Regions from separate parts of the Homo sapiens genome. Here regions 2 and 3 are each reported to be linked to region 1. The links are microRNA targets in miRTarBase. Many come from high-throughput screens and were not tested one by one. Region 1 holds a microRNA gene; each other region holds the end of a gene's coding sequence.
The links. The annotated mature microRNA hsa-miR-1207-5p reads UGGCAGGGAGGCUGGGAGGGG and lies in region 1 at 4,980-5,000, opposite strand. An mRNA with a match to its seed (bases 2 to 7 or 8) in the 3' UTR can be bound and repressed. Matches are read on the target gene's strand: a 7mer-m8 pairs with bases 2 to 8, a 7mer-A1 pairs with bases 2 to 7 and ends in A, and an 8mer does both.

Region 2: the mRNA of CPLX1 is a reported target of hsa-miR-1207-5p. Seed matches in the 3' UTR shown: 7mer-m8 at 1,142-1,148, 7mer-m8 at 1,767-1,773 and 7mer-m8 at 1,847-1,853.
Region 3: miRTarBase lists CTDSP2 as a target of hsa-miR-1207-5p. Seed matches in the 3' UTR shown: 7mer-m8 at 5,770-5,776, 7mer-m8 at 4,170-4,176 and 7mer-A1 at 3,809-3,815.

What each region holds. Positions count from the first base shown.
Region 1 is chr8:128,046,647-128,054,158 of GRCh38, reverse strand. MIR1207 (microRNA 1207) reads right to left here and starts at 5,007; the gene lies at 4,921-5,007. All of the region lies in intron 6 of PVT1 (Pvt1 oncogene), which reads right to left. RefSeq lists a cis regulatory region at 4,616-4,868, enhancers at 4,747-5,292, 3,812-5,928 and a silencer at 5,481-5,664.
Region 2 is chr4:780,307-787,518 of GRCh38, reverse strand. It overlaps CPLX1 (complexin 1), which reads left to right. Exons shown (of 4, transcript NM_006651.4): 4 at 821-2,562. The coding sequence ends at 1,018. It overlaps LOC124900163 (chloride intracellular channel protein 6-like), which reads left to right and starts at 5,671. Exons shown (of 2, transcript XM_047416474.1): 1 at 5,671-5,747. It overlaps PCGF3-AS1 (PCGF3 antisense RNA 1), which reads left to right and starts at 5,670. Exons shown (of 3, transcript NR_171661.1): 1 at 5,670-5,747. RefSeq lists enhancers at 1,537-2,408, 4,403-5,120, 5,121-5,837, 5,838-6,555 and silencers at 5,382-5,731, 5,832-5,911.
Region 3 is chr12:57,817,098-57,824,309 of GRCh38, forward strand. CTDSP2 (CTD small phosphatase 2) reads right to left here. Exons shown (of 8, transcript NM_005730.4): 6 at 7,130-7,212; 7 at 6,807-6,992; 8 at 2,830-6,630. The coding sequence ends at 6,505. AVIL (advillin) reads right to left here and starts at 1,637. Exons shown (of 20, transcript NM_006576.4): 1 at 1,532-1,637.

The sequences.
Region 1 (7,512 bases):
AATAGGAGATTCTCACCCTGTTGTCACACACTGGATGCTAACTTAGCATTTGTAGGAATTCACATCCTCCCACCACCTCCTATAGTCACCAGCAGATATGCAACCCAGAACCCAGACTGGCAAGAGGTTATCACTCACACTGGATTTTGCTTTTTTGTCCCCACTAAAGGCAGCTGTTTCCTACAAATTTGTGTCAATCAGGCCAGGAAGTTTCTTTTTCCCTGCAATCCATTGTATGCAGGAAGATCAGAGGGCCCTGTCAGATACAAGGACGGAACCAGCTGGGCACTTGGAGATACAGGCTGGCTGCCCTGGCCTGGCCTTGCCCCAACCCTTCTGGTTGCTCAGCCAGTCCACTGTGCTGGTGCAGCTGTACCTGCTGACAGATGCTGAGAACAGGAGACTTGTTATGATAATTAATTAGGAGCACTGGCATCATCGTAAAGAGCCTCTGTTCTGTTCCAAAGCCAGCTAAGAAACTCACATCACTCACATCCTTTCCTGTCTCATAAACATGCTGCCTCTAGTCCACTGAGGGGCAAGGGATTGAGCTTGTTTCCTAGGGGTAACATCTCTAGTAAAACAAAGCCATTCTGAGGAGCCTGTGTGGACATCAGGCAGGACTACATCAAATTCTCATCTCATGGATGAAAAAGCTAAAGCTGATAATAATACCTATATATATTAATACCTATATATATAATACCCATATATATAAAATACACATATATAGGTATTATATATACAATATATATAAAATACATATATATGTGTGTGTGTGTGTATATATATATGTATATATAGCCCTCCAAGATGGCAGATGACACTGTCTGAGCACCCACTATAATCTATACTCTCATTTTTTCCACCATTAATGTAAGATTAATAGGAAATTATTAATGCATTTCTTCCATGTTGATCTAACAAAACCAAGACTTAATGAAGTTAAACACTTTGCTCATAGTCACTTAGTGATGAGTGAGCTCAGATCTCAATCTAGCTGTGTTAAATTCCTAGATCCAGGTCCCCTCCTCTTTACTATGCTGTTAACTCTGTGCCCAGAGCACAAACTGCAGTGAGAACTTACCCAAGAAATAGGATAATGACCCTTTGTTTCATGCACCACCCATTTGCTGAGCATCTTTGCTGGGGTGGTTACTAGAAGAAAGCACTAGAAAGGTCTGGCAGAGTGGTTAGATACACAAATCCTGGAGCCACTGTGAGGTTTAAAATCCTGGTTTTACCATCTACTGTCTTCATAGGAGAGCTAGACCACATTACTTAGCCTTTGTGTGCCTTGGTTTCTTCATCTGTAAAATGAAGTGACAGTATATCTCAGTTGGGTCTAATGAGGATAAAATAATTTGGTAAACATAAAGAACTTAAAACTGTGCCCTGCACATAGTGTGACAACAGCACTGGTTTTTATTGTTATGACTGTGGTAAACACAATTGACCTCATTCTTCCCCTTACAGGATCCCAATCTAGTGAAGGAATACAGATGTGAAATAAACAAAACTAAATGTATCATTTTAAATAATACTATGAAGAGAAGAGTAATGTGAGCAAGATGGCAGAATAGTAGTCTCCAGTGTCTATCCCTTCATAGAAACAGCAATTTGAACAACCACCCATGAAAAATATACCTTCACAAGAGCTAAGAAATCCAGATGAGCAATTACAGCAGCTGGGTGGAGCATAGAAATAATAAAAGATGCATTGAAAAGGGTAGGAATAAGAGTTTCACATCACTCACATCACCCTTCCCCCAAGACAGCACAGTGCAGCATGAAGAGAGAAACCCTTCATGTGGAGGAAGGAGAGTGAAGTAAGCACCCAACATCAGTGTAGATCCTAGTACCAGGTTGGCCTTCACAGACGCATGCTACAGACATGAACACAGTCAATAAAGCCATCCCACTGTATCTCAGTGCCAGTCTGGCCCCCAGGGACCCAGAATCTAGGCCTGTACCCATGGACTCAGGCACCAGGCCAGCCCGCTTAAGAATTCCAGCAGTAAACTTGCCCTCAGACCCTGCCAGCCAATCCACCCAAAATATCTTGACTGGTGAACAGCTTTCTTGGCCAAAGCTAATTGGTAAAGAATAAAAGAGATCTCTACTTCTTAAAATATGTAGACATCAACACAAGACCCCAAGGGTTACAAATAGACAAGGAAACATGACTAAAAAACAAACTAAAGCACCAGTAACCAATCCTAAAGAAATTGAGACCTATACATTGTCTGACAAAGAATTCAAAATAATTGTCTTGAAGAAACTCAACTTAAAGAGAACATAAACAACAAAATCAGAAAAACAATACATAAACAAAGTAGAAGTTCAACAAAGAGAGATAAACCATAAAAAAAGACCCAAACAGAAATTCTGGTGGTAAAGCAAAATGACTGAACTGAAAAATTCTATAAGGAACTTCAGCAGCAGACTTGATCGACCAGAAGATGGAATCAATGAGGTCAAAGACAGGCCATTTGAAATTAGTCAGAAGAATAAAAAGAAAAAAAAATGAAAAAGAAAACCTATGGGACTTATGGGACACCATCAAGTGAACTGAAATACACATTATGGGAACTCAAGAGGAGGAATAAAAGCAGAGGAGAAGGTGATAGAAAGTTTATTTAAAGAAAAAAATACATAGAACTCTCCAAATCTGGAGAGGAAAATAAACATCTCAATCCATGAAGTCCAAATAATTTGTAATTTATTAAACATAAGGAGGTCTTCATTGAGGCACATTAAAGCCAAATTCTTAAAAGTTAAAGATAAAATTATGGGCATCCATCTGAAGGGAAGAGTCCTCCTCTCCTTGGGCACAGAACTTCCCCCAGTCCCCAGTCAGCACCAGGTTCTCAGCTACCTATGTCTTATGCAATCCAGGCTTGGCACAGATTCCCAATAATGCAACCTCCTCACTGGATGATAGGCTATGTGAAGACAGAATCTTCATTTTATGCATCCTTACAACTCCAGTGTGAAGCACAGACACAACATATCATGTGCACTCAATCAATTTCGTTCAATGAAAGAACAAGTGACTCTCTTTCATTCTCTTGGAGTTGAATACTCAATCGTCCCATAAATGGTTCCAGTGCTCAAGCTGAGAATCTTACACCACAGTCAATGCCCTGAAGAAATTGAGACTGTGCTGGGAAGTCAGACACAAAAAGAAAGAGATGAGGTCCACTCTTGCTGTCATACATGAGGAACTAAGAGTCTTTCAAACAGAGGAAGATGACTTTGTGGCAGAAAAACCCACAGAGGAAGTGAATGATGGAATGGAACTTGAGGACAGGTGGAGTTTGAATAATCAGTGGGGTAGTCAATTAGAAGGTTAGGGAAAACCCCATTCATTTATCTGACAAGTCAAGCCCCAGTAGGAGCCTTTAGACAGGTTCTTCTCACAAGAACCCTGCAGGTAGGAACTATCAGCCCAGGTTAATGTCAAGGATACAGAGGCTTGGAGTGGTGAGGTGACATTCCTAGGGTCACAGAGCCAGCAACTGTTGGAGCTGAGGTCTGAACCCAGCACTCTCTGAAGCCAGAGCCCATGGATCTCTCAGGCATCCAAGGGAGAAAAAACAATGGGATCAAAGCACAGACGTCAAGGAAAGCAAGTAGTGTTTAAAAGACAAGAAGTGAGACCTGTTTACCAGAACTGATTCCCCACATAAGAGGCTCGGAGGCATTCAGTCTTTATTCACAGGCTGGAGTGATGTTGCGGTGGACTTAATGCCCCCTGAGAGGTCTGACTTCAAGCCTGTGGGTGACACGGAGCTACTGTTTTTGAGTTGGACAGGGACATGGTCAGAACTGTGCTTTCAGAATTTGGACTTGGCCACTGGAAGAAGAGACAGTTAAACTCAAGTTGCCCAACATGAGGCATGGGATGGGAGAGGTTGGGGAAGGGATGGAAGGAAACAGAGTGGGCACCAACAGGAAGGAAGCAAAGTCAGGAACTGCTGGCTGGAATGGGTCCAGGGAGAGGGAAAACCACTTCTCCTTCCTCTTCTTATGATTGCAAGATTAGTACTTGAGAATTAGGCTGCACAGGCCAGGACTTCCCAAAACTCAGGAGGGAAAGAGCCCAGAGCACGTGTCTCCAATGGAGGCTATAGTTCCAAATCACGTGATCATCGGTCATCTCCTTGCCCACCCTGAAGCCCTTGTCCCCAGTGTACTTTGGGCTCAGACAGTCCCTCAGGGGATACAGCAGTGTCCTTTCCTTCAGCATTCAGGGCAAATGAGAGGCAAAGAGATCAATGGAATGCAAAAGCGTTACTATAGATGAGAAGTCGGACGCACAGAGAGGTTCCACCACTTGCCTAATATCACACAGCAAGTACATGCCAGAATCAAAATTCAAACCTAGAGCCCCGGTGTAAACCTTACCTGAATCAGTCAGGGAGCAGCAGGGAGGCAGTGGAAGGATAGGCCCCCTGACCTCACTCCCCGCCTGCCTTCCCATCCTGCCAGTGCCTTCCAAACTGATACCAGAGAGCATGGCAGCCCTGTGTTGCATCCACCCTGATAATGCATCCACACAGGTCAGCCTTCTGGGCACAAAACAAGGCAGAGAAGAGCAAGGAGTGGACCTGGAGGGGCCCACGGAAGCTCCCCAGCACCCACCACTCCAATGGCCCAGCCCCTGGTAGGTCTCCAGTGCCCTTCACCCTACAGAGCCACAGAATCCCCAGACCTTGACGCTGCAGCTAGGGCCCGCCTGCCTCTCAAGAGAAGGGCAGGGCCCCACACAGGCAAGTGCTCTGCCTCCGCGCAAAGCTGGGCATGCGTCATCACACTCCCGCCTTCCTTCCTCATTCACTCTCCCTTGCCCTGCTTCTATCAGTGGCTCCAAGACGCAAACATCTCGAAATGACCTGCTTCTGTGTAGGTCAGCTAACAGAAGTGCTGTCTTAAGAAATGAGGGCCAGCTGATGCCCACTACCAGACCCAGCCAGCCCCTCCCAGCCTCCCTGCCAGCCCTGCACATGGAGGCCTGGCGGCCAGGAAAAAGAAAGGGCTCCTATCTCTGATTCCTCAGGGCCTCTGATAAGAAATGTCATCCCTTGCTGGGTAATATTACCAAGCCAGATAAAAATCTCTATCAAGCTTAAACATATGGCTGGCTGCAGAACACAGAGTCCAGTGGAGAAGGGTAATTTATTTGCTTAAGCTGAAAACCCTGGGCAGCCGAAAGAAGTGCCTGAATAAAAGAGTAAGAGCCAAATTATAACCTCTTCTGACTTGGCATGGGGATTTTTCCCTGGGAAGGATGAGACACCTGAGAACAACAGGGGGCTCTCCACACATTTCTCCTGACACAATAAGCGCTTTCGCCTTCCTCTTTCTTCAAAGGGCACTTTCACTTATGCTATCACATTTAATCCTCACTACAACCTCAAGAGAGGCATTTTTAGCTTCCTTTACAGATCAGGAAATTGAGATTCAGCAAGGTTAAGTAAAGTGGCCAAGGTCACACAGGCAGCCATGCTGGAGCGAGGACCCAAACCCCAGCAGGTCTGACTCACCATCAGATGGGGAAGCTGATCCCAGCTTCTGGGGAGGATCGGCTCATACATCCACTTAATCAGCGAAGTCAGATCTGCCCAACTTAACTGACAATGTCAGCTACACATTGTAATCTTGAAGGTCCATTTCAAGGCTCTCCCGTCTCCTTGTTTCTCTGTAGCCTAAAGGATAATGAGAAAGCCTTGCAGAGCACAGAAGCTCAAGGAAAAGGACGGGAGGCCAGGGATAGTACCCAGGAGAGCAGTGAGTGACCTCAGGGCTTAGATTCCAGCCTCATATGCTCAAGGAGTAGCAGGTAGAAGGAAACTGTGGAAAGAAAACTCCTCTCTCTGTTCATTCATTCATTCACAAATATTAGTGGAAAGCCTATTGTGTGCCTTCTCTAGCTTGGCCTTGGAGATACCAATGCAAATGGGCAGGCTAGGACCTGCCTTCATGGATCGTCTGTCTTCTAGAACTGACTTACAGGTCAGTAAAGAGGCAATAGCCACAGAGTGTGTTAAGTGTGTTTGTGAATGCAGAAGTTCACGTAACTGATCTGGGGTTGGTGGCTGTGCATTAGTGTGTAGCTGTTAGCATACTCCACACAGTGTTCTAGGCACTATTCTTTAAAAAGTCAGCATTGTTAAGGTTGACTTTGCTCTTTGGTAGTTAATATAGCTTCAAGATTGTTCCCAATTACTTCATATAGCCACTAATTTTTTTAGATTAATTTTTAATTCACAAATAAAAATTGTATATATTTATAATATATGATGTGAAGTTTTGAATGATGTATACATTGTGGAATGGCTAAGTTGAGTTAATTAACAGGTGCATCATCTCACATACTGATTTTTTTTTACTAATTTTTTAAACAGCTGTATTAGTGTTCCATTTTATCACAACTTAATCAACCAATCACTAACTAATGAGCATTTAAGCTGAGTCTCGTTTTTCTGTGTCAAACAATGTTGTAATGAAGATTCTCTTCTCATCATGCATGTGTTTCTGCATGAAAAGTTCTTAGGATTCGCCCAGTGTTTTTTAAGCTTGGCTTTTCCTGTGCTCTTCACTGCAGCAGTAGCAAGGTCTCAATAGCGTCCTTTACAAGATAATGGCTCCCACGCGCCCATCCTCTTCAGACCTGGTGGGGCTCTAGTAAAAGGGTTTTAGTTCTCTTTAGTGAGCAACTGCCACCATTTCCACAAAAGCACACAAGAAAACAAAAACGTTTCCATTCTGGTGGCCAAGAAACCACTCCTCTTATCCCTGCCTCCTCTGGCCCATGGTGACTTAGTTCAGAATCAAGCGGAACTTAGCAGCAAGACACCAACCTCTCTTCTCACAGGTCATTCCTAGAAAGTGTCAGCTTTCCTTTTCTTCTGGACTCTGAGAGATTCAAGAACACAGAAAGCCCAAGGCTAGCAAATCTCCACTGAAGCTCAGCATACATCAAAAACTAAAGCCTGGTGGAGAAGGCACAGCAAATGTCAACTGCACACTTGGGAGCCCAAAGTACCTTGGAGGAAGGCATCAGTCGTCCAACAGAACACCTTTGGATAGTCAAAAGATAAAGAGAGTATGACTCCATGGCTGGAACAAAGTAGAACCTCAGACAAGAGGACATCCTGTTCATGAGAGGTTGGCCATCCACTGAAGACACTGTGGGGGACCGTGAAGGCAGAGCAGACATGAGAAAGGCAGAGCCCCACTCCTTGGTCCCCTGGAGAAAACCAAAGAAAGGGCTGTAATCTACGTGATTAGAGATGGAGAAACTAAGAGCCTGGGGAACAAAGGAAAGGGCCTTACTCATTCTTCCTGGACAAGTTAGAGAAGAGGATATTTGAGTTAGATATTGAAGAGTGAACATTTAGAAGACAGAGAAAAGGGAGAGGACCTTCAGATGGTACTCACAGAGCAGTGTGGCATGGAGAGTGAAAGAATGTTCAGCCAGTGGCCAGACTGTAAAGGGTATTTCTC
Region 2 (7,212 bases), not on the chromosome of region 1:
TGGACTTGAGGCCCCTCAAATCCAGGATGGCCTCGTCCCCATCCTTACCATTATGAGATCAACAAAGACCTGTTTCCGAATGAGATCACCTTTGAAGCTCCAGGCAATATGAATTTGAGGGGGACAATATTCAGCTACTACGGAGGGCAGACGCACTCACGGGAGATGAGAAACGCGGGTGGGCAGGGGGTCGGTGAGGCCCAGGCATACTGGCTGAGGGCACGACTAGGCGGGATTCCAGGACACCCAGTGCCTGGAAGTGACCGCAGCCCAGGACCCTCTGCCGGCTGCCCACGGAGCTGCAGCGGCCTGCCAGGGAGTGGCCCTGCTGGGGCCGCGGCCGCATCCAGGCAGCCTTGGCCAGGCCCGGGAGTGTGAATGCAGGTCGTGGACCAGGCACTGGGCAGGAGGGTCAGCTGCGGGTTGACTGTTTCTCCCCACCTCTGCCACGCAGCATCCTGCCCACCCCTCCCTGCCCCGGGCCGGAGGCTTCCTGGAAGGCAGGATGCCAGGGGCTGGGCTGGGTTTGGAGCCAGAGGTGGGGCCACAGCCCTCTCTCCTCTCAAGGAAGATGGGAGCCTCCCCCTCCCTGCTCCCCCCCATGTCAGCTCCTGGCCCCCATTCTCCGTGGGGGCTTCCCATTCCTCCAGGGACCCCCCGGGGTGGGGTCTCTTCTCCTTCTGGGGTCCTTGTGTGCCTGGTGGGGTAGGGGGCCGCACCCACGCCTTCGGGGGTTCCTGGGCCAGTCCCTGGCGCAGGGAGGCTGCGGCCCGCCCGGGAGCCGCCGGGACCCCCGCCCTGACCCCCGCCTCCCCCGCAGTACGGCATCAAGAAGAAGGAGGAGCGCGAGGCCGAGGCCCAGGCCGCCATGGAGGCCAACTCCGAGGGGAGCTTGACGCGGCCCAAGAAGGCCATCCCGCCGGGCTGCGGGGACGAGGTGGAGGAGGAGGACGAGAGCATCCTGGACACCGTCATCAAGTACCTGCCCGGGCCGCTGCAGGACATGCTCAAGAAGTAGCCGCGCGCGGGACAGCGGCCCCGCGGAGCCCCCGCCCCTCCCCCTACAGATCCTCCGCGGAGGCCCCTGAGGGACGAGCAGAGCGCAGCCCCCACGCCGATATAAGCCATAGCCCCAGGCCCGCCCTGCCCGCGCCCGCCGCCTCCCTCACCCGGCAAGGGGCGCGCGCCCCCAGGACCCCCCCAGTCCGCCCCGTGCTCCTCTGCCCGCGGGTGGCTGGAGCCCCATCGCCTGGGACGCCCCTTTCTCTTGCTGTTTACCGCCCACCCAGCAGCGCCCGAGGCCAGGGCCGCCGAAGGGCAGCCCCGCGACCACCCCTGTGCGCGCGTTCGCGGCGGTGGGCGCCTGTCGGGCCCGCACTCAGGAGCACAGCCATAGCAGACGGGGGGCTGCGGGCGGGGCGAGGGCGGCGGGGCCTGGGTCCCCCTCCTGCACGCGGACTCCGGGGTTCGGATCGCTCCGCCGTGAGTATTTGCGTCCGCACGCGGCCGCTCTCCGCCCCCCGGCCTGGCCCCCTCGCGCCCCTGTCCATCCGTCTCTGTCCGCGTCCTTTCCTCTCCTCTCTGGAAGGTTTTGCTTCTTACGAACGCCACGGCCGTGTTCACTTCTAAACTAAAGGAAACAAAGCAATAGGTTTGGGGGACGCCCAGCCCCCACCCCCGTCACCCCGCTCTTCCCAAGTCCTCGCCCCCCGCCCGGCCTCCTAGCCTCTCCGCCCACGCGGCTGCTGCTTCTCCCTGGGGAGGACCCCTGCCCTCGGCCATTGAACACTGCACCCTCCACAGGAGCCGCAGAGGCCCGAGGCACCGGACGCTGGAGACCCTGCGCCCCTGCCCAGCACCTCCTCCGTGGGCAGCTCCTCGGGTGGGGCCTGCGGGGTTCCCTGCGCGCAGCTGGCGCGTGTGTGGCCTAATCCACCTGGTGGCCCTGCGGGGCGGCATCCGAGCCCCTGTTTCTCCTCCATTCATGTTTAATTTGCATCACAATTTGTTGAATCTCAGGTAAATGAGGTCTTTGCATTTAATGAGTTTTATCTTGACAGGCGCCGCCTCGCCCCCGGGCCCTTTCGTCCACATCAAAAATGCATCAAGTCTCCACGTGTTTCGGGCCAGGGCGTGGCTTGGCATTGACCTTCATGACCTTACATAGCTTTAGAGAAGCCATAACGTTAGACTGCAATACTAACGACCGACGCCCCTCCGGGCAGAGACCACCGCGCCCCTCTGCGCCCCAGCGACGCGGCCCGCGGGGACGTCGCTGTCCGTCCTGCTCGCCCTGTGCCCTCTCACTGACTTCTCCCGGGTCGTGTCTTTTAAAAACTCCTGTTTTCACACCTTACAAAGCCAGCTCTGAGCAGACAGGGCGTCCTCTCGTAGAACCTGCGCACCCCGTTCCCAGCGCATGGCGCCCCGGGCCGCGAGCTTAGCTTAGACCGTGGTGTCCTCTGTCCGTCTGTCCTGCGCCTGCGCCTCCTCCTGCATGTCGGGGCCCCTGCGTGTGTTCTCTCCGGATGGAATCACAGCCAATAAACACCAGTGATTTCACACCGTGTGGCCATTCCTTCCAGAGGTCCATTTCGCCAGCCGGAGGACCGGGGCTTTCCCCCGCGCATGTTCTCTCCACGGCGGCTGCAGGGCCTCCCACCATTCTCACTCAGCTCCATCCAGTCAGACCCATTTTCCCTAGGCCGTCCAGCCAGCGCAACCTCCATCTAAACACAAACCTGCGCCTTCAGGGTCTCCCGCCCCCCAGGGTGGTTCTTCCACCCGCAAAGCATCTGCCCTCTGCTCTCCCTCCCACCTAGGACCCCCGACCACAGGCCTGTCCCTCTCCTCAGCTCCACCGGGCCCAGGGCCCCAGGTCACCCTGTGCTGCCCTTACCTCGGCCCACCCAGGAATTCCTGCCCCCCAGCACCCCCGTGGGACTGTCCCTCCTCCTGAGTCCTGGACCCGGATCCCTGCAGGGAAATGTCTGCCAACCTGGGCTGAGGCCAGAAGAGGTTCCTGACCCCAACCCAGAGAACAGCCCCTCTGCCTGGTTGCTGGCGGTCCCGCCCACACTCAATCCGCTGGATGCGCAGCCCACGCCTAGCTGCTGCCTGCCACTTGCTTCCCCAGAAAGTCCTTGTTTGACCTCCAAGTTTGGAAGCTGTTAAAAGATGATTCTGGCCAGGTGCGGTGGTTCAGGCCAGGTGCGGTGGTTCAGGCCGGGCGCGGTGGCTCACGCCTGTCATCCCAGCACTTTGGGAGGACGAGGTGAGCGGATCACGAGGTCAGGAGATGGAGACTATTCTGGCTAACAAGGTGAAACCCCATTAATACTAAAACTACAAAAAAAAAAAAAAAAAAGCTGGGTGAGGTGGCAAGCAACTGTAGTCCTAGCTACTCGGGAGGCTGAGGCAGGAGAATCGCCTTGAACCTGGGAGTCAGAGGTTGCAGTGAGCCGAGATGACACCACTGCACTCCAGCCTGGGCGACAGAGCGAGACTCCCTCTCAAAAAAAAAAAAAGAAAAAAGAAAAGAAAAGATGGTCCCGTGACACTTGTTACAGCTGAGTGAGGAAGGCTTTATTCAGGACCAGCACTACAGGTACAGGGACCATGCAACAGGGCTTGCCATGGGTGCCAAGGAGCAGGGTGGGCTCAGTGGATGGAAAATGACTGAGGAACATCAGGGGTTGGGGGATTCTGATGAAACCCATCTAACTGGATTCTAGCTGGAGACAGGCAGGGCAATCAGACAGACCCATAGGGTGGTGAAGCATGAGGACCCCAATCAGATCTCCAGGATGAAGGTTTGTTGCTAAACTGACTTAGCCAGATTCTTTGCTAAAACTGCATTTTACAAGGAAGTGGGCCAATGGGCCTACCAGAAGATTCAGGAAGTTAACTAAAGTTTGACCACACAAAAAATCTTTGTCAGGAGCCCTCTCTAGGGAGCAGCATGTCTGGGTCTCCTGTAACCTTCCTGATGCTGCTGGCTGGGAATGCCCCAGGGAGCTGCCCAGTCCCAGGGCAGGAGGGCCCCATGTGCCCTGACCCCAGGCCGGGCCCTCCTGGATGCCAGGTGGGAGCTGGGAGGGAACGTGCTCTCCTCCAAGCCCAGGGAAGGGTGTATCCAGCTCCTCCTCCTGCTGCCTCTGGGGAAGTGTGCACCCCAGGCACCACCAAATTGCCCAGGGTGATCTCTCCTCTGCCAGCTGGCCCCCCTTCCTCCTGGAACAGAAACTCAGTGTCTTTGCACCCACCCCTGTGTCCGTGGCTGCTGCCAGCTGCCCCTCAACAGGGCACCCCAACATCCAGCCACTGCTCAGCCTCCATCCTCCCCCAGCCTCCCATTTCCCATCCACAGCCTGGTCTGGACCCCCTTGCAAGCCTAAGCAGCGACTTGGACGTGCCAGGTCACGACCCAGGCAGCTTTCCCTTGGAGTCTTTTTTTTTTGAGACAGAGTCTCTCTCTGTCCCCCAGGATGGAGTGCAGTGGTGCGATCTCGGCTCACTGCAAGCTCCGCTCCCAAGTTCACACCATTCTCCTGCCTCAGCCTCCCGAGTAGCTGGGACTACAGGCACCCGCCACCACGCCCGGCTAATTTTTTGTATTTTTAGTAGAGACGGGGTTTCACCGTGTTAGCCAGGATGGTCTGGATCTCCTGACCTGGTGATCCGCCCGCCTCGGCCTTCCGAAGTGCTGGGATTTCAGGCGTGAGCCACCGCACCCGGCTCCCTTGGAGTCTAGACGAGCCCTTCCTACAGCAATGAATGCTGGGTCAGACCTGAGCTTCTCCGGGATCCAGCTCTCATCTCAGGTGACGGGGTCTGAGGCCTCCTGGGAATGGCACTCCTCCCCAGATGTTTACTGAGCCCCTGTGATATGCGCTGCTCTGTTCTAGGGGCTGGGAATACTAGTCCCTCCCTCCTGGAACTGGTTTTCCTAGTGATGGAGGACAGATGATAAACATGGAAGTGGCGGTGTTTGCCCTGGAGGAAAATCAAGCAGGACAGGGAGCAGAGAGCAATGGTTAGGGTTACTATTTCATGAGTGGTCAGGGGGCCTCTCTGTCAGAGTGACGTGCACAGACCCGGAGGGAGGCGCGTGTCCCGTGGGAGAGCATTCTGGGCAGAGAACAGCCATTCGAGAGCCAGGAGGCAGCGCTGCCTGGGTGCCACCAGCGTGGCCCTGGCCCCATGCACTGGCTGGGCACCACCCTGCCCCCGGAGTCTCCTCCTTCTGAACGTTTGACTGTATCTTGAACACAGCGGGGCCGGCTTTCAAGCTCCAGACACGGCCTCCTCCCCAGGCCAGGAAGCCCTGTCAGGCAGCAGATCCGGCCCCCTCAGCAGATCGGCCCCTCCAGAAGACCCGCCCCTCACAGCAGATCCGGCCTTCCCAGCAGACCCGCCCCCCGAGTAGATCCGCCCCTCCAGGATATCCATCTCCCCAGCAGATCCGTCCTCTCCAGCAGAACCGCCCCCAGCGGAGCCGCTCGGGCGGGGCCTCCGGGCCTGGGGAAGGGAGCGGGGACCGGGCCGTGGAAGGACCGCGCCCGCCCCTGGCCAGCCTGAGCCAATCAGCGCATGCTAGGTGGGCCGACATGATTGGCTCCTAGAGGCTCACGTGTGGAGGCCTGACCAATCAGAGCCCGAGAGACGCCATTGCAAGCCTCTGCAGAGGCGCTGGAGCTGGGTCAGTCCGCCGCTCACCCCGCGGCCGCACCTTCCCGCCTTCTCAGGTAACTAAGTGCGGGTCTCGGGCCTGGCAGAAGCTTCTTCGGCCCCGTGCCCTCGCCTGGCCCCGCCCCGTCGGTTGTGTGCTTGTCTCGTCCTGCCCCCAGGCCCTGCCGGTCCCCACCGTTAGGCCGGCGTCCCTGCCCGGCCCCGCTGCGGGCTGGCGCCAGCTCAGGAGGACGCCCCGAAGCCGAGGCCTCGGAAGCAGGTTTTTCCCAGACCTTCTCCTGTCCCGCGTTCCCCCTAGGCCGGCCGTAGGGACCAGACCCCACCCTAAGCCCATAGCCGGCCTTCGCGCTCCGGGTGACCCTGGCTGGCCCTGTTTGTCTGTGGGTCCTGGGATGCGCCACTCCCGGCAGGAAGGGGCGCCGCCGAGGCCCGGTCTCAGCCTGGAACCCCGCTCCTGCCGTCGGGGCGCTTTCTGCGGCTGCCCACACACGACCCCAGGCAAGGGGTGGGGGCGCGGGACCCTCCATGACATGGCGGCGGGGCGCTCTCACTTCTTTGAAACCAGCGTAAACTGGACCCGCCCCACCTCCCATACCTTGGGGGAGCCCCGGGAAAGGCTGTGGCCTGGGGGTCTGCAGGGCGTTGGCAGTGGAGGTGGGGAGAGACCCCAGCCCTTTCCTGTCCCCCCCACCAGCCTTGCCTTCCTCGCCGTGAGCCGGGGACAGTGGAGGGGAGTCAGGGAGGGCCCACCAGATGGACTTTCTTGTGACTCATCCTATAAAGCCCCTCGGGCTTAGCCACCCTCCCCAGGACCCGTGTGGTCTCCCGGACTGTGCTGGAAGCTTAGAGCCAGAATGACTTTTCCACCCTCGGGCTGGCTGGCTCAGTGGGCAGCAGGGACAGGGGGCTGTGAAGAGAAAACTCACTCGCCAGGGTCAGGGGCCGCTTGCTCACTGAGGAAAGCAGAGGGGTTCCTGCCGCTTGCCTCAGGAACAAAGCTAGTTGGTGAGGCACTGCCTTGCAGTTGTAGGAGAGGAATAATGGCCCCCGTGGGTGCTTGGTTGGAACGATTAAAGGAGAATAACAGTTTAGCACGATTATTTCACACAGTTGTTCAAAGAGATGGCTTTGAATTCCAGCTTACATGGCGTCTTCAACAAAAAGTAATTGTTTAGAGAAGTGACAAGATGAAGGAGGACTCTGAGTCCTAGTCTCCCTCCTCGAGTCCCTGTGTGAGCAGAGGTAAACAATGAAAACTCACCAACCAGGAGAAATTCACCTAGGACTGGCGCAGAAGGTATACACCATGAGCCTGGAAATGATTTAAAAAACAACACAGGCTGGGCGCGGTGGCTCACACCTATAATCCCAGCACTTTGGGAGGCAGAGGCGGGCGGATCACTTGAGGTTTGCGAGTTGGAAACCAGTCTGACCAACGTGGAGAAACCCCGTCTTTACTAAAAATACAAAATTAGCCAGGTGTGGTGGCGCATGTCTGTAATCCCAGCTACTGGGGAAGCT
Region 3 (7,212 bases), not on the chromosome of region 1:
AGAGGCTTTATAGAATTAAAATACCTGCTCTCAAGGAGCTTGAAATCTGATAACATGCATAATTAATGTAAAGCTAGATTAATTTCTCCCAAGAGGCAAAGGAAAAAGGATGGGGTTGATGGATTTATGTAAGATTTAAAAATTCACCCAGAAAGGACTGTATGCATTTTTGCTGTTTGGGGACATACTGTTTGTTAAGAGGAACATGTCTGACCATTGTTTTCTTGAACCTTGATGGACAAAGCCAAGTTTGGAGAGCATGCGCCATCTAGTATGGACTTTGGCAAAAAACCATAAAGCTCAAAGCAGACTCGCTTTGTCTACTGCTGTAGCAGGACTAAAGCAAGGCAATGGTGCGGAGCAGCCAGTGTTTGAGAATTTAATTTGATAACTTGTGCTGCCCCACCCTGTGCTGCTCAGAATTGCCAGGAAATATGGTGTTTGGGTTTTCTTCAGACCCTACGTAGCAGTCATTAAAGGCAAAAGCCATGAGCCAACTAGGGGAAGGGGACAAGGGCCACTGAATTCATTCCTTGGAGACAGAGAACTGTCACCCTGGTAAAAGCCAAACCAGCCGGCAGCAATTAGGACTGTGAGCCTCAGAGGCTGAAACCTGTCCCGTTTCCCAGCAGGAATTTAGGAATCAAGGAGCTCCCTGGGCCAGGCACCCCGAATGCGAGAGGATAAGCTCCAGGAAGGGACTTCCTGTCACACTGGAACACACAGAAAACACAGTTCTGACATCAAATCTCCCAAAGCTGGGTCTCTCCTTCTCCCTAAATCCTAATTCAGTATCCTTTGAGAGGACTGCAGAAACCCCTTGGGTGTGGGGCACAGTTTTGAAATGTCAGGTTAAAAGCCAGTGGCCTGTAATTCTCAGAGATGCCCTTTTGGACGGACCCTGAGCAGAGGAAGCTGTTTTTTGTTGTTGTTGTTTTTGAGACAGGGTCTTGCTCTGTCACCCAGGCTGGAGTGCAGTGGTACAATCACGGCTCACTGCAACCGCCACCTCCTGGGCTCAAGTGATCCTTCTGCCTCAGCCTCCTGAGAAGCTGAGACCACAGGTGTGCACCACCATGCTTGGCTTTTTTTTTTTTTTTTTTTTTTTTTTTTTTTGTAGAGACAGGGTCTCACTATGTTGCCCAGGATGGTCACAAGTTACAAACTCCTGGGCTCAAACAATCCTCATGCCCTGGCTTCCCAAAGTGTTGGGATTACAGGTGTAAGCCACCTCTCTGGGCCAGGAAGCTGGTTTTAACTCCTCCTGCCTTGCTCCATACCATCTTTCTCTAGGGATAGGTGAAAGGGGTCTGTCTTTCCCAGCTTTTGAAAATGTGCCCTATATGTTCAGCTGCCTCTAAGGGGTTCTTCTGAACAAGAAGTTTGCAAAACTGGCCAGCCAGACTCCTGGTTCATTTTAAAAGCCTCATCTCAGAAGACAAAGCCAAGGGACTCTCAAGCTCCTCTTCCTTTCATTTCTTCCTCATTCAGGAGGATTAACTGGCATGCCCCCGTAAATCAGAGACCTTACCTTGCCTTCTCGCTCACCAGCCTTCCCAGTTTCCCGGCGCGTAAGCAGCAGCAGTATTGAAGAACCACTCCAAAGCAGGAGGCTCCAGGTCCTGCTGCCTTAGCTTAGTAATGGCCGCAGAGATACTGGGTTATATTTGCTTGTGTTTGCATCTTAACCGCATTTTCCTAGTCCTGGCCAATCAGAGCCAACCTAGCACTGAGCTTGGCTTATTCAAACCAGAGGGAAAGCTTTATCTGTGCCTATTCAAAACAGCAAAACAGAAGAGCAGACTTTTAAAGGCTTCTTTGAACTCCAGCTCCACGCCCTGATCTAATTGATTTTTTAAAAAGTGCACACAGCCCATCAATAATGCAGGAAAGAGGTTGGAAGGATATGAAATTTGCCATATTGTAGATATGGATGCATTATGGTGATGACAGGAGGAAGAGGCTGGAGCTGCCCCATGAGTGCCTGTGATGTCTAGGTTGGCAAGAGCCTCCCTAAGAAGCTTCTGGCATTTCTCAAAGGGAGGGGAAGTCTGGGAGAGGAGCCAGAATTTTATTAGGCCACAGTTTTGCTCGTTGGGGTCTCTACTAGTCATACAGTAAACCAATCAATATTTGAGTGCCTGCTGTTTGCCAGGAACCATGCTGGGCTCTCAGCTTCAGGGTTTCCAGTTTGGAAGAATCAGTGAGGGGCAGAGAAGAATCAAGACTCCATTCCCAGGGCTGGGTGTGGTGGTGGCTCACGCCTGTAATCCCAGCACTTTGGGAGGCTGAGGTGGGTGGATCACAATGTGAGGAGTTTGAAAACAGCCTGGCCAAGATGGTGAAACCCCATCTCTACTAAAAATACAAAAATGAGCCGGGCGTGCTGGCAGGCGCCTGTAATCCCAGCTACTCAGGAGACTGAGGCAGGAGAATCGCTTGAACCTGGGAGGTGGAGGTTGCAGTGAGCTGAGATCATGCCACTGCCTCTAGCCTGGGCAACAGAGCAAGACTCCATTTCAAAAAAAAAAAAAAAAATAATAATCCATTCCCTTAGGGCTTCTGGTTCATGCCCAGAAGTCAATAGGACATCAAGCATATACACGTGCTAAGCACCTGACTGCAATGGGGTTGATCACAGCAGAACTTGTGTAACCTTGAGCGGAAGCCCTGTGTGGCATCTGCAGCTGGCCTCCCGGTGGGTGCAACACCCCACTCAGCCCGGGGGTGCAGCTGCTTCATGATGGAAGGGGTTGCGAGAAGAAAGGCGGTGCTTGCCATGGGCCCAGTGAACACTTAAGGGCCAATGAAGGTTGGTGGCAGCTCACATTCCTGGAAAGGTTTTTTAAACCCACTTTTATTAATTAATTGTAAGTAATACAAATATTCCAAAAATATAAACAGACACTTAATGGCGTCCTGCATTTCAAGTTTTTGAATACAACAAATTTATCAAACCATGAATCTGTAAGCAAGGTAGTCAGAATCCCATAGCCCAGTCACAGTGGGAAGCAGATCCCCTACCCTCCAAATGGCATCTTGAAGGGGGAAAGCGGCACGAAATGGAACATGATAAGCAAAAAAGCTCACGAGGCCCAAAGAGGAGGGTCCGCTCCATGGGCAGGCCCTACAACGTTAAAAGAATGGGGCAGCTGGCCCGACCTCTGGCCTCCTCTTCCCTGGCTGAATGTAAATATTTACCAGCATTTAGAAAAAAGGAGAAAAAAGACAGAACTAAACCCGTTTAGGAAAAAGGGACCGAGGGACAGCAGTGGTTAAGTAATCCACTGAGGACCTGAAGGGGAAAATGGACTTACCTTTCTCATATACTTGGCCTGGCTAGGACACTGGGTGCCAGACAGCCTTCTGAGGGGATTTTCTTTCTAAATGAGGCCTCAGGAACAGGTAGGGGCAGCAGAATAGAATAGCATCCATTTCCCAGAGAAAGACTGCCTTTACATTTCCCATGCTTTTAGCACAAAGCAGCGTCTGGGCCACTGTTACCAGAGGTGAGTTTATACATTTACAAAATGCTTAAAATCTTTGGGAAGCAAGAGGAAGCTAAACAGAAGGTCCCATGTTAACTGAAGGCAAATTCACTCAACCTCTCTAGTAAGGGACCCATGGGCCTACAGAGTGTTCCCTCTACAATGTGCAGAGTGGAAACCCTTACCTGACCCTTTTCCAAACTGGTCCTGTGTCCAAAGCTCCCCCTATGAGAGGGACACGAACATCAGGCTTTTGATTTAGAAGCCCAATCAGAGAGACACACTGTGTCCCTGAAGAGGCACCTTAAAAGAACTGAACCTGGCAGGTAGGCAGATTCCTGGCATGGCTTGAATTGGTGCTGACCAGGCATGGTGGCCTATTGCCTCCCAAAGACCAGTCTCAAGTGGGAGGGGCTGATGGTGGGAAGCCCTAGAAGAGAGTCTGGGATGAAGCGGCCTCCTCCCTGTCTTGCCCTCCAAAATTGAGTCTGGCCTGATTCCTTTGAGGAGCAAATTTTACAATCATCCCTCACCCTAACACACGGTGAAACTGGAAACCCGACAGCAAATAATGACTAGGCTGGCTCTGGTCCACAAGAACAGACCCTGGCTAGGTTTGGCCGAGTAGCTTCTCTGGGGCAAGTGGGAATGGCATTGTTGGGGGGGAGTTGCAGGTGGGCAGGCAGGGTTCTGATGGGAGTGAGGCCTAAAAAGCAGGGGCTTCATGCAGATGCAGCAGGGACACTCCCACCAAGCCATCCTGGGCTTTGGTCATGGGTCCCACGCCAAGCACTTGGACAAGTCTGTTAGGAAAGGGGGTGGCACATGCTCTTCCGCCATCTGGAAAAACATGGAGATCCAAGGGAGGGCGGAAAGGGTCCTTGCAACTCAGTCAGCTTAGAGCCTCTTATTGCTTATTTAGTCAGAAAAGCCTGGCTGGGCCTAGACGGCAAAAGATTTGGCCAAGGGCTAACCCTTAGGGTGGGGCTTGGAAGAGAGGCCCCTCCTGCAATATTAGGATAGCAGCCTAGGTCAGGCCTTGGGTCCGAAGCCACAGCTGGCTCTAAGAGTCTGAGCTCCTGCTTTCCTTCAAGAGACAGTATATTTCTGGCTAGCACATGGGGTCCTTCTCCCTTTAGGTACACCGGGACCCCATAGGCACCGGGGAGTGATGCTGGCGGAAATGGCCACATGAGTTCTGGGGACTCTGTTCCACTTTATGATTCCAAAGAGAAAGACAAGGCCTTATAACCTTGGGACAAGAAGGGAAGGTGGCACCACAACGCTAGAGAAAAATGCCAGCCAGCCACCGCTGAGAGCACGAAGCTGCTGCTCTACTACCTGCTTTTCTCAAAACTTGTTAGTTCCTGAGGCTGGATCTAGGGTGTGGCAATGGAAGGGATGATGGGGAAGAGTCCTGAGTGGGTGGTGTCCCTGCACCTAAAGCAATTCACAAATGCTTTGTGATACCTGCCTCCAGGGAACACAGAGATGGGAACAGGAGCGCCCTCCCACCCCAGGAGGAGGGAGGGAGGGAGGAGAGAACCCCACCCACCCCAGGGAGGCCACGATTAAGGCAGTGATGCTGAGGTGGGGCTCCTTTTTGGGAGGCCCCTTGTGCTCCCAATTACAGCAGCACTTCCTCTTATTTTCCACCCTGGGAAAACTTCCATTTCGTGATGACTTTAATTTTAAAGCATTCACTATTAAGAACCTTTGAAAGCAGGAGACACCCAGAGTGCAGGTCTGAGGGGCTCACTCACTCCTGTTACCAGAGGCAGAAAGCATGCGCATTAGGCTGGCAAATGGCAAGAACACTCATTCCCCCTCAGCCCAGGAAGAGCAAGAGTTCTGAGGCCCTTAAGAGGAAAAGCAACAGCCAGGAAGGATGAAGGCTGGAACAGACAGAGCTCGGTACAGGACAGGCCCTGGGGGAAGACACAACAGGAAAAGAGCCCTGCCCAAGAAATGGGAGGGGCTGGGACAGCTTAGTTTTTCCCAGCCTTTGGAACAGAAGTCCTTGCACCAGCACCAGCAGAGAATCCCTGAAAAGCAGACTTATGGAAATGATCCCGAGCTTAGCTGATCCACAAGCCATGGGGACACACGTCCACGCTTTGAGGATTTGTCTTTTCCCTGCAACCCCAGCGCCGCCGACATTCATTACAGGCCCAGGACTGTAACTTTGTCAGAAACAAACCAGGCCCAACACTCTGTGTTTAGAAAGAGAATTTTAAAACACAGTCAAAAGAACGGAAATCAGTTATCTGTCCTCTTCCCGGGCAGGGAGAAAACCTCCTTCCCCACAGGTTTGAGACTATGGCTAGGTGGTGAGGAAGGCAGGCTCAGCACCCCAGCCTTGGGGAGACATAGAAAAGGCCTATCCCAGGCACTCAGCCGGAGGCAAGCATAGCCTTTGGGCCACAAGACCTGATGGCCACTGGATGCTGGTCTGGAAACAAGTTCTCATCTTCCCAGAAATGTGATCTTTTGTCTGCAGCAGCTGGCTGGAGAAGGATTTCAGAAAGGTGTGTGCCTGGAGTACCCAAAGGCATACCCTTCCTTTATCCTTGGCATAGGCCTTACAACACTGAGGAAAGGCCATGGTTTGGCAATGGAGTCTTCAATAGTCTTCATCCCTACACAACTCAGTGGCTCTTAGGGTGACAGGAGAGGAGACAAGCTAACTTGGGAAGAGTCTTGGTCTTTCAGCTTCTCCCCCACTGAAACACTATACACTGGGGCCACAGTTCATGGCAAAACACACACACAAACACACACTCTCTCACAGTCAAACACACATCTCAACAAGTTGGCGGCAGGTAGCTCTGGGTATCATTGGTCTGGCATTCGCCCACTCGGCATCTAAGCTGTCCTAAAGCTCTTTCCAGTTACTTCCCGCTGTTTCCGGGCCGTGTGGTGAGGCACTCCAGCTTCTACTCTGTCACGCTGATCGTAAAGGCACAGTGTGGGAAAGTCCCCTACTGGGATGGCCGTCGCTTGGAAGCAGGGCAGGCTAAGGGGCCCGCAGCTGCCCAAGGCTGGTGTAGACGTCCTCTGCTCCGCTCAGCTCCTCAAAGATTGGGATCAGGTTCAGCAACTCAGTGTCTGCCATGTCATCAAACCAGGACTGCACAGGCACCTGGTGGGGGGAAGATGTGGTGTCAATCTCCCGACTGCTGCTTCCCCCTCCCTCGCCCCAGAGCCCTAGAGGGTGGCTGGGTCTTCCTGGAGGGGTGTACTTCTCTGGTGGAGCCCACAGTTCCAGTCTGCTTCCTCTCCCAATCCCTACCGTGGAGACGCATCAGGAGCACTCACTGCATTCTCGGGGTGGAATATGTAAGAAGCAGGCGAGTTGTCCAGGATGAGGGTCTTTCTCAGGTCCCTCCCCAGGCGGCTGAGGTCCTTGACGTAGCAGCCCTGGTGGAACACGCAAGACTCACGGAATAGGCGGGCCCGGAACACCCCACACCGGTCCAGCAGGTCTGTCACAGGGTCGGCATACTAGGAGGAGAGAAGATGCCTTAGTTTGGATACACTCCTGGTCCTCCTGTATAACCCTAGGGACCAAAAGGGAGCTGCTGGACCACCCCCGTGGCCACCACACCCACTCCTGGTTCTTCCCTCTCACCCCTAGGTACCTTGGCCAGGCTGGCAGTGAAGAGAACACATTCAAAGAGTTCCCCCATGCGTCTCAGGAACTCATCCACATAAGGCCTCTTGA